2 separate regions of the Homo sapiens genome follow, and region 1 is linked to region 2. The links come from fine-mapping of genetic effects on gene expression. A gene starts in region 2. The other region holds a variant in brackets. All regions are shown on one strand. Distances are from middle to middle. Region 1 overlaps BRD7 (bromodomain containing 7). Region 2 holds the start of ADCY7 (adenylate cyclase 7).

What was found. PIP is the estimated chance that this variant, and not a neighbour inherited with it, causes the effect. A credible set is the group of variants that fine-mapping cannot tell apart.
Region 1: its variant is the best candidate, but not a certain one, in a credible set for the expression of ADCY7 in whole blood (TOPMed, PIP 0.74).

Annotation. Positions count from the first base shown.
Region 1 is chr16:50,343,200-50,348,199 of GRCh38, forward strand. All of the region lies in intron 5 of BRD7 (bromodomain containing 7), which reads right to left. Among named protein-coding and RNA genes, the nearest start is that of BRD7, 23 kb to the right of the region's middle. The variant C/T (reference allele first, on the strand shown) is at 2,037.
Region 2 is chr16:50,264,034-50,269,561 of GRCh38, forward strand. It overlaps ADCY7 (adenylate cyclase 7), which reads left to right and starts at 2,518. Exons shown (of 26, transcript NM_001114.5): 1 at 2,518-2,647. RefSeq lists enhancers at 415-594, 1,662-2,255, 2,201-2,290.

The sequences.
Region 1 (5,000 bases), 79 kb after region 2:
TCATGTTGAATTGTAATCCCCAATGTTGGGGGAAGGACCTGGTGGGAGGTGATTTGATCATGGAGGCAGATATCCCCCTTGCTGTTCTTGTGATAATGAGTCCTCACAAGATCTGGTTGTTTGAAAGTGTGTAGTGATAGGTTCCAAGGTGGCCGAATAGGAACAGATCCAGTCTACAGCTCCCAGCATGAGTGATGCAGAAGACTGGTGATTTCTGCATTTCCAACTGAGGTACTGGGTTCATCTCACTGGGGCTTGTCGGACAGTGGGTGCAGCCCACAGAGTGTGAGCCGAAGCAGGGCAGGGAATCACCTCACTCAGGAAGCACAAGGGGTTGGGGAATTCCCTTTCCTAGCCAAGGGAAGCTGTGACAGACTGTACCTGGAAAATCAGGACACTCCCACCCTAATACTGTGCTTTTCCAATGGTCTTTGCAAATGGCACACCAGATTATATCCCGCGCATGGCTCAGAGGGTCCCATGCCCACGGAGCCTCACTCACTGTTAGCACAGCAGTCTGAGATTGAACTGCAAGGCAGCAGTGAGGCTGGGGGAGGGGCGCCCACCACTGCTGAGGCTTGAGTAGGTAAACAAAGCCACCGGGAAGCTCGAACTGGGTGGAGCCTACCTCTGGGGGCAGGGCATAGCTGAACAAAAGGCAGCAGAAACTTCTGCAGACTTAAACGTCCCTGTCTGACAGCTTTGAAGAGAGTAGTGGTTCTGCCAGCATGGAGTTTGAGATCTGAGAACGGACAGACTACCTCCTGAAGTGAGTCCCTGACCCCCGAGTAGCCTAACTGGGAGGCACCTCCCTGTAGGGGCCAACTGACACCTCATACAGCTGGGTGCCCCTCTGAGATGAAGCTTCCAGAGGAAGGATCGGGCAGCAACATGTACCATTCTGCAATATTTGCTGTTCTGCAGCCTCTGCTGGTGATACCCAAACAGGGTCTGGAGTAGACCCCCAGCAAACTCCAACAGACCTGCAGCTGAGGGTCCTGACTGTTAGAAGAAAAACTAACAAATAGAAAGGACATCCGCACCAAAACTCCATCTGTATGTCACCATCATCAAAGACCAAAGGTACATAAAACCACAAAGACGGGGAGAAACCAGAGCGGAAAAGCTGAAAATTCTACAAATCAGAGCACCTCTTCTCCTCCAAAGGAACGCAGCTCCTTGCCAGCAACGGAACAAAGCTGGAGGGAGAAAGACTTTGATGAGTTGAGAGAAGAATGCTTCAGACGATCAGTAATAACAAACTTCTCTGAGCTCAAGGAAGATGTTTGAACCCATTGCAAAGAAGCTAAAAACCTTGAAAAAAGATTAGACGAATGGCTAACTACATTAAATAGGGTAGAGAAGACCTTAACTGACCTGATGGAGCTGAAAATCATGGCACGAGGACTACGTGATGCATGCACAAGTTTCAGTAGCCGATTTGATCAAGTGGAAGAAAGGGTATCAATGATTGAAGATCAAATGAATGAAATGAAGCAAAAAGAGAAGTTTAGAGGAAAAGGAGTGAAAAGAAATGAACAAAGCCTCCAAGAAATATTGGACTATGTGAAAAGGCCAAATCTACATCTGATTGGTGTACCTGAAAGTGATGGGGAGAATGGAACCAAGTTGGAAAACACTCTTCAGGATATTATCCAGGAGAACTTCCCCAACCTAGCAAGGCAGGCCAATATTCAAATTCAGGAAATACAGAGAATGCCACAAAGATACTCCTCGAGAAGAGCAACTCCAAGACACATAATTGTCAGATTCACCAAAGTTGAAATGAAGGAAAAAATGTTAAGGGCAGCCAGAGAGAAAGGTCAGGTTACCCACCAAAGGGAAGCCCATCAGACTAACAGCAGATCTCTCAGCAGAAACCCTATAAGCCAGAAGAGAGTGGGAGCCAATATTCAACATTCTTAAAGAAAAGAATTTTCAACCCAGAATTTCATATCCAGCCAAACTAAGCTTCATAAGTGAAGGAGAAATAAAATCTTTTACAGACAAACAAATGCTGACAGATTTTGTCATCA[C/T]CAGGCCTGTCTTACAAGAGCTTCTGAAGGAAGCACTAAACGTGGAAAGGAATAACCAGTACCAGCCACTGCAAAAACAGGCCAAATTGTAAAGACCATCAAGGCTAGAAAGAAACTGCATCAACTAACGAGCAAAATAACCAGCTAACATCATAATGACAGGATCAAATTCACACATAACAATATTAACCTTAAATGTAAATGGGCTAAATGCTCCAATTAAAAGACACAGACTAGCAAATTGGATAAAGAGTCAAGACCCATCAGTGTGCTGTATTCAGGAAACCCATCTCATGTGCAGAGACACACATAGGCTCAAAATAAAGGGATGGAGGAAGATCTACCAAGCAAATGGAAAACAGAAAAAGGCAGGGGTTGCAATCCTAGTCTCTGATAAAACAGACTTTAAACCAACAAAGATCAAAAGAGACAAAGAAGGCCATTACATAATGGTAAAGGGATCAATTCAACAAGAAGAGCTAACTATCCTAAATATATATGCACCCAATACAGGAGCACCCAGATTCATAAAGCAAGTCCTGAGTTACCTAAAAAGAGACTTAGACTCACACGCAATAATAATGCAAAACTTTAACACCCCACTGTCAACATTAGACAGATCGACGAGACAGAAAGTTAACAAGGATATCCAGGAATTGAACTCAGCTCTGCACCAAGCAGACCTAATAGACATCTACAGAACTCTCCACCCTAAATCAACAGAATATACATTCTTCTCAGCACCACACTGCACTTATTCCAAAATTGACCACACAGTTGGAAGTAAAGCACTCCTCAGTAAATGTAAAAGAACAGAAATTATAACAAACTGTCTCTCAGACCACAGTGCAATCAAACTAGAACTCAGGATTAAGAAACTCACTCAAAACCGCTCAACTACATGGAAACTGAACAACCTGCTCCTGAATGACTACCAGGTACATAACGAAATGAAGGCAGAAATAAAGATGTTCTTTGAAACCAATGAGAACAAACACACAACATACCAGAATCTCTGGGACACATTTAAAGCAGTGTGTAGAGGGAAATTTATAGCACTAAATGCCCACAAGAGAAGGCAGGAAAGATCTAAAATTGATACCCTAACATCACAATTAAAAAAATTAGAGAAGCAAGAGCAAACACATTCAAAACCTAGCAGAAGGCAAGAAATAACTAAGATCAGAGCAGAACTGAAGGAGATAGAGATACAAAAAACCCTTCAAAAAAATCAATGAATCCAGGAACTGGTTTTTTGAAAAGATCAACAAAATTGATAGACCACTAGCAAGACTAAGAAGAAAACAGAGAAGAATCAAATAGATGCAATAAAAAATGATAAAGGGGATATCGCCACTGATCCCACAGAAATAGAAACTACCATCAGAGAATACTATAAACACCTCCATGCAAATAAACTAGAAAATCTAGAAGAAATGGATAAATTCCTGGATACATACACCCTCCCAAGACTAAACCAGGAAGAAGCTGAATCCCTGAATAGACCAATAAGAGGCTCTGAAATTGAGGCAATAGCCTACCAACCAAAAAAAGTCCAAGACTAGATGGATTCACAGCCAAATTCTACCAGAGGTACAAAGAGGAGCTGGTACTATTCCTTCTGAAACTATTCCAATCAATAGAAAAAGAGGGAATCCTCCCTAACTCATTTTATGAGGCCAGCATCATCCTGATACCAAAGCCTGGTAGAGACACAACAAAAAAAGAGAATTTTAGACCAATATCCCTGATGAACATCGATGCAAAAATCCTCAATAAAATACTGGCAAACCAAATCCAGCAGCACATCAAAAAGCTTATCCACCACGATCAAGTTGGCTTCATCCCTGGGAGGCAAGGCTGGTTCAATATATGCAAATCAATAAACGTAATCCAGCATATAAACAGAACCAAAGACAAAAACCACATGATTATCTCAATAGATGCAGAAAAGGCCTTTGACAAAATTCAACAGCCCTTCATGCTAAAACCTCTCAATAAACTAGGTATTGATAGGACATATCTCAAAATAATAAGAGCTATTTATGACAAAACCACAGCCAATATCATACCGAAAGGCAAAAACTGGAAGCATTCCCTTTGAAAACTGGCACAAGACAGGGATGACCTCTCTCACCACTCCTATTTAACATAGTGTTGGAAGTTCTGGCCAGGGCAATCAGGCAGGAGAAAGAAATAAAGGGTATTCAATTAGGAAAAGAGGAAGTCAAATTGTCCCTGTTTGCAGATGACATGATTGTATATTTAGAAAACCCCATCGTCTCAGCCCAAAATCTCCTTAAGCTGATAAGCAACTTCAGCAAAGTCTCAGGATACAAAATCAATGTACAAAAATCACAAGCATTCCTATACACCAATAACAGACAAACAGAGAGCCAAATCATGAGTGAAATCCCATTCACAATTGCTTCAAAGAGAATAAAATAGCTAGGAATCCAACTCACAAGGGATGTGAAGGACCTCTTCAAGGAGAACTATAAACCACTGCTCAATGAAATAAAAGAGGATACAAACAAATGGAAGAACATTCCATGCTCATGGGTAGGAAGAATCAATATCGTGAAAATGGCCATAGTGCCCAAGGTAATTTATAGATTCAATGCCATCCCCATCAAGCTACCAATGACTTTCTTCACAGAATTGGAAAAAACTACTTTAAAGTTCATATGGAACCAAAAAAGAGCCTGCATTGCCAAGTCAATCCTAAGCCAAAAGAACAAAGCTGGAGGCATCACACTACCTGACTTCAAACTATACTACAAGACTACAGTAACCAAAACAGCATGGTACTGGTACCAAAACAGAGACAGAGAACAATGGAACAGAACAGAGCACTCAGAAATAATAACACACATCTACAACCATCTGATCTTTGACAAACCTGACAAAAACAAGAAAGGGAGAAAGAATTCCCTATTTAATAAATGGTGCTGGGAAAACTGG
Region 2 (5,528 bases):
AATGAGTGTACTTAGGCACTCGCCTGTATAACCAGCACCCACAGGGAGATTTAGAACCTCCTCAGCCCCCAGAAGTTTCCTGTGTGCCCCTTTCCAATCAGCGGCCTCCCTAGAGGCAACCGCTGTCTTGCTGTCTGTCACTGTAGATTAGTTTCATCATTTCTGAAGTTTCATATAAATGGAAACGTGCTGAATGTGTCTTTTGTGGGTGGGTCTTTCACTGTCCTTGCCATCTTGGATATTCATTCATGTTGTGTGTTAGCAGTGATCTGTTCCTTTTTACTGCTGAGTAATTTTCTGTTGTGTGAATATATGAAAATTTGTTTATCCATTTACTCATTGCAGGATGTTTGGGTTTGCAGTTTGACTGTTAGGATGAAAGCTTCTCTGAACACTTGGATAGAAGTCATTTGTGGACACATGTACTCATTTCTTTTGGGTAAATACCTGAGATTGAATTGCTGAGTCATTGGGGAAGCATATGGTTTGCTTTTGTCCACACTGCCAGGCAGTTTTCATCATGGTGGCTCCATTTTACATTCCCACTAGCAGTACATGAGAGTGAAGAGCTGCTTCTCCTCCTTGTCAACACTTGGTATTTTCATTTTAATTTTAGCCATTCTAGTGGTACAGTGGAATCTCTATATGGTTTTAATTTGCTGGTGGCTAATGATGTTGAGTATCTTTTTCATGTGCTTATTGGTCATTTTGGCATCCTCTTTGTTGAAGTACCTGTGTAAGTCTCTTGTTCATCTTTTAATTGGGCCATTTGTCTTTTTCTTATTGGTTTGTGGGAGGTCTTTTTTTTTTTTTTTTTTTCTGAGACAGAGTCTCACTCTGTTGCCCAGGCTGGAGTGCAGTGGTGTGATCTCGGCTCACTGCAACCTCTGCCTCCCAGGTTCAAGTGATTCTCCTGCCTCAGCCTCCCAAGTAGCTGGGATTACAGGCTCATGCCACCACGCCTGGCTAATTTTTGTGCTTTTAGTAGAAACGGGATTTTGCCATGTTAGCCAGGCTGGTTTCAAACTCCTGACATCAGGTGATCCGCCCACCTTAGCCTCCCAAAGTGCTGGGATTACAGGCATGAGCCACCATGCCAAGCCTGGGAGATCTTTATATATGCTAGGGAGGAGTCTTTTGTCAGTCATATAGGATGTGACTTTCTCCTAGTCAGTGGCTTGTCTTTCCCCTCTTTTGATGATGATGATGTCTGTTCCTTCTCTGCTCTGGGACATTTGCTAGGGAGACATTTGCTGATAGGAGGGCGACCCTGATGGGGAGGATCCCCTGAGGTCTCCCACTCCCTCCTGTGGCCTCTGGAGCAGCCTGGAACCCTGTGTGAGTCCTATGCCTGTCTCCACCAGATGGCAGACCTTAGATCACCTGCTAGTTCCCTGCATGGGGCCTGGCACAGAGACAGCACCTAACATGTTCAGTTCCTCCTGATCAGTATGTGTGGGATGTCTACTCTGTGACCAGCTGGGGCTGGACGCTGGGGACACAGCTGTTGATATTACAGCTGCCCTCCCATCTCTGCCCTCCTCAAGGATATAACCTAGGAAAGACAGACCAGCAACCAGTGGTCACAGCACAGAGGTGCTGTGATGGAGGAAGGTGCAGGGGTTAGAAGACCAGAAGAGGGGTGTCTGACCCTGGATGTGGGAGGTGGAGGAGGTACACCATTGCTTTGAGGAGCTCGTAATCCCAGGATGCCAGTCACATGCTCAGAAGGGCTCCCTGAGGACCAGGTGCTGCTGTGGCCAGCGGGCTGGAGGCCTCCCCCTCTGTTTTGGGAGTCTCCACTCTCTCCTCTTAGCCTCTCCTGATCTGCTCCCTCGCCACTGAGCGCCCCATGATCCCAGTGGGGAAACTGAGGCCTGGCATAGCAGAAGGGGTGCTGGGGTTTGATTCCCAGCCTCATGGTGCCCAGGGATGTTGGGGGCTCTCCAGGGACTCTGATTTTGGAATAGGAGCCCCAAGGATGGGCCTGCCCCTGCCCTGCTCCCAGCATGGGAGCGTAGGTGAGATGGAGAGGCAGTGGGCTGGGCTGGAAGATCTTTGACCTCTCCTGGGCCCCTCTCAGAGGTGGACGGGGCCACCTTACTACATAGATAGGGAAATTGAGTCCCAGGAAGGCGCGGGGGGCCTGTCTGTGAGCGTCAGAGCCCACAGGAGGCTCAGGCCAGGCCGCTAATTGCTAATTGCTCACTAAGGATGCATTTGCTCCCCACTTTGAACAGTTGTCTTGGGGCTTCTAATGGAGGTTTTTGGTGCTTGTTTTATTATTATTTTTTCAAAATTGTTCCAGCTTCAAGCTTCAAATTTCCATGAAGTCATTGGAGCCCGACAGCTCCCAGGCCTGGCAGCTCCCAGGCTGCGGAGAGCAGCACTGTGGCTGGGGGAGGGGGCCCTGCACACCCCGAGAGGCTGGGCTGTGGGCTGTGCCTTAGCCTTGCTGCCGCCGCCGCCGCTGCTGCCGCTGCCGGAGCAGGAAGTGGTGGGTCCCAGATGTGACTCACTCTCATTAGGTAGCGTGGAAGGAGCCTTCGGATGGGTGAGCCTGGGCGCGTCTGAGGAAGGGCAGGCGGGGGCCGGGCCACCTCCCTGCAGACCCTGGCCGGCTGCTGGGGCCGGGGAGGAGAGCCAGGTAAAAGTGGGGTGTGGGGATGGAGTGTCACCAGTCCTAGTGGCTTGAGCCCCAGGGGACGGGGCTGGACAGTGGGTGGGAAGCAGCTCACCCGGCAGCCTGGCCTGGGAGTGCACTGGGCAGGGTCTGGGCTGGGGGAGTAGGAGGCTCCGTGAGCCTACTGGGCAGATGGCTGGGAGAGGCGGCCCTTCAACAGGGGACCAGAGGCGACTTGTCACTGGCTTTTCCCAGCCTGACAAGAAAGTGCGGTTGTGACCACAATGTTGTACATGTGGCCCGTTCCATCTGGAATTCTAGGAACCACAGACTCTCAAATGTCCACACTCCTTCTCGAGGGTGTAATTTTACATTTACAAGCACACATGACTTTTCTCAATGAAAGGAAACATTGGCAAGGGAAGGCCAATTCAACTAATTTTATGAAATTATAAAACAAAAAACAAACAAAACCTCTGAAAGGAGTGCATGCCTGAGGGTCAGGAAACCAAGATGCCTCCAAAAAGCAGACTGGTTTCCCTTTCCCTGCAATGCCTCTCCTCTATCCCCCAGGGACCGCATGGGCCATCTGGAGTGGGTCTTTCTGGAGCGGGTCTTTCTGGAGCTTTCTATGCATTCATCTAAACATGTATGTACAGAGGGTGAGGCAGTTGCCTCTTCTCTGTGTCATCACATCAGGGTCAAGGGCAGGGACATCTGTGGCTGGGGGCTTCCTCCCTGGACAGCCATTGCTGGAGAGGAGAAGGGAGGGCCGGGAGGGGGAAGCCAAGGGCCTGGAGGTAGGGGCCAGGCCGAGCCACCTACGACAGGGGCCCTGGGTCCAAGGCCTGGACGGGCAGCCAGTGTGGGCTGGATGTGTCTGGAAGGGCTATGTGACCGTGGGCCTTCACTAGCATCACCATCTTGCAGATGGAGGCTGTGAGGGGTGGACTCAACACCAGTGTTTCTCGGAGTGAGGACCGGGCTGCCCAGGGAATCACAGGGGGTTCTAGCCTGTGTGTGGAAGGACATGTTTAAAATCTAAGTATTTGTCTTGGGGAAAAAAAAATCTGTAAATAGGACATTGCCATTGTGACATCATGACTGTATTATTGTCTTAGACGAGGCCAAAGGAGACATAAAAGTGACAAGCCAGCCAATTTGAGAGGAAGTGCCAAGTGCCAGCCCTGCAGGAAGTGCAGGAGGCTGAGGGGGCTGCAGCTCAGGAAGGCGTTTGCTGCACAGCCTTCGCTTCCCACCCAGTTGTCTGTCTTCCCACCTCCAGAGGCCCTGGGTTCCCAAGGTTTACCTGCAGCTCCTGGTGCAGAGTGTGGGGGAGGGGAGGCTCTCAGATTGTTCCAGATTCTGTGGCCCTCAGAAGGGCAGGTGTGAGCTTTGTGGAGGTAGCGTCTCCGGTGGTATTTTCTTTCTTTCTTATTTTTATTTATTATTATTTTTTGAGATGGAGTCTCTGTCTGTTGCCCAGGCTGGAGTGCAGTAGTGACCCTCTTGGGTCACTGTAACCTTTGCCTCCTGGGCTTAAGCCGTCCTCCTCCCTCAGCCTCCTGAGTAGCTGGGACTACAGTTACCACACCACTACACCTGGCTAATTTTTGTATTTTTAGTAAAGTAAAGACGGGGTTTCACCATGGTGGCCAGGCTGGTCTCAAACTCCTGACCTCAAATGATCCATCCACCTCGACCTCCCAAAGTGCTGGGATTATAGGTGTGAGCCACCACCCCCAGCCTCTTTTCTTTTTTTAAGACAGGATCTCACTCTGTCACCCATGCTGGAGTGCAGTGGAGTGGTCATAGCTCACTGCAACCTTGAACTCATGAGCTCAGGCAATCTTACCGCCTCAGCCTTCTAAAGTGCTGGGATTACAAGCATGAGCCCGACGCCCAGCCTTCTAGTGCTGTTTTCATGAAAGAAGCAGCTGTTTACTAGCAGCTGTTTTCCGGGTGATGAGGGTGAAGGTGGTATTGCAGAACATCTTTGCCAGGAGTAGGTCTGGGAGGTTTGCTTGAGGGCATGGAGGTTGGTGTAGGGAGAGCTCAGGAAGTAGAAATTGGGCTGGAGTGTGGCCTCTGGACAGGCCACAGGAGAGTCTCAAAAGGAGAAAAGATCCCAGCACTTTGGGAGGCCAAGGTGGGCGGATCACTTGAGCCCAGGGGTTCGAGACCAGCCTGGGCAACATGGCGAAACCCCGTCTCTACAAAAAATACAAAAATTAGCTGGGTGTGGTGGCGTGTGCCTGTAGTCCCAGCTACTTGGGAGGCTAAGGCAGGAGGATCCTTTGAGCCCAGGAGTTGGAGGCTGTAGTGAGCCATGACTGTGCCACTGCACTCCATCCAGCCTGGGTGACGGAATGAGACCCTGTCTCAAAATAAATAAATTTTTCAAAAGAGACAAAAGTCCGACTCGATGGTTGCACTGGGGACATGCACCCCACTCTACAATTTATAGCTACTGATTTGACCCATTCCCCACCTCCTCCACCGCTCCATATGGTAGGTGCCGTTCACCTCCAGTTTACAGAGGAGACAGGGCCCAGAGGGGCTGTCTATCCTGAATAACCCAGCAGATCGGTCCTCAGGCATCCAGTTGTGCCCACCACAGTGTGGTCTGCTGCCACATTTGAGCCTGGAGTCAGGGCCAGCACACTGTGTCTTTGGCGAGATCAGATGGGGCAAAGCTGAGAACAGGGGCTCTGGTTGGTGCTGAGGGATTCGTGGGGGTGGTCCTTACTGGGAAGATGAGGAATTGGGCTCCTGTGAGGGCCTCCCCTACCCTGCCCTGTGCCTGGACTTCGCTGGGCCCACTGCGGGAGAGAAGAGGTAGGACGAGGCCTTCTGCGTGGCTGGGCCAGGGTGGGCTGTCTCACGTGCTTTCCTGGATGTGTGG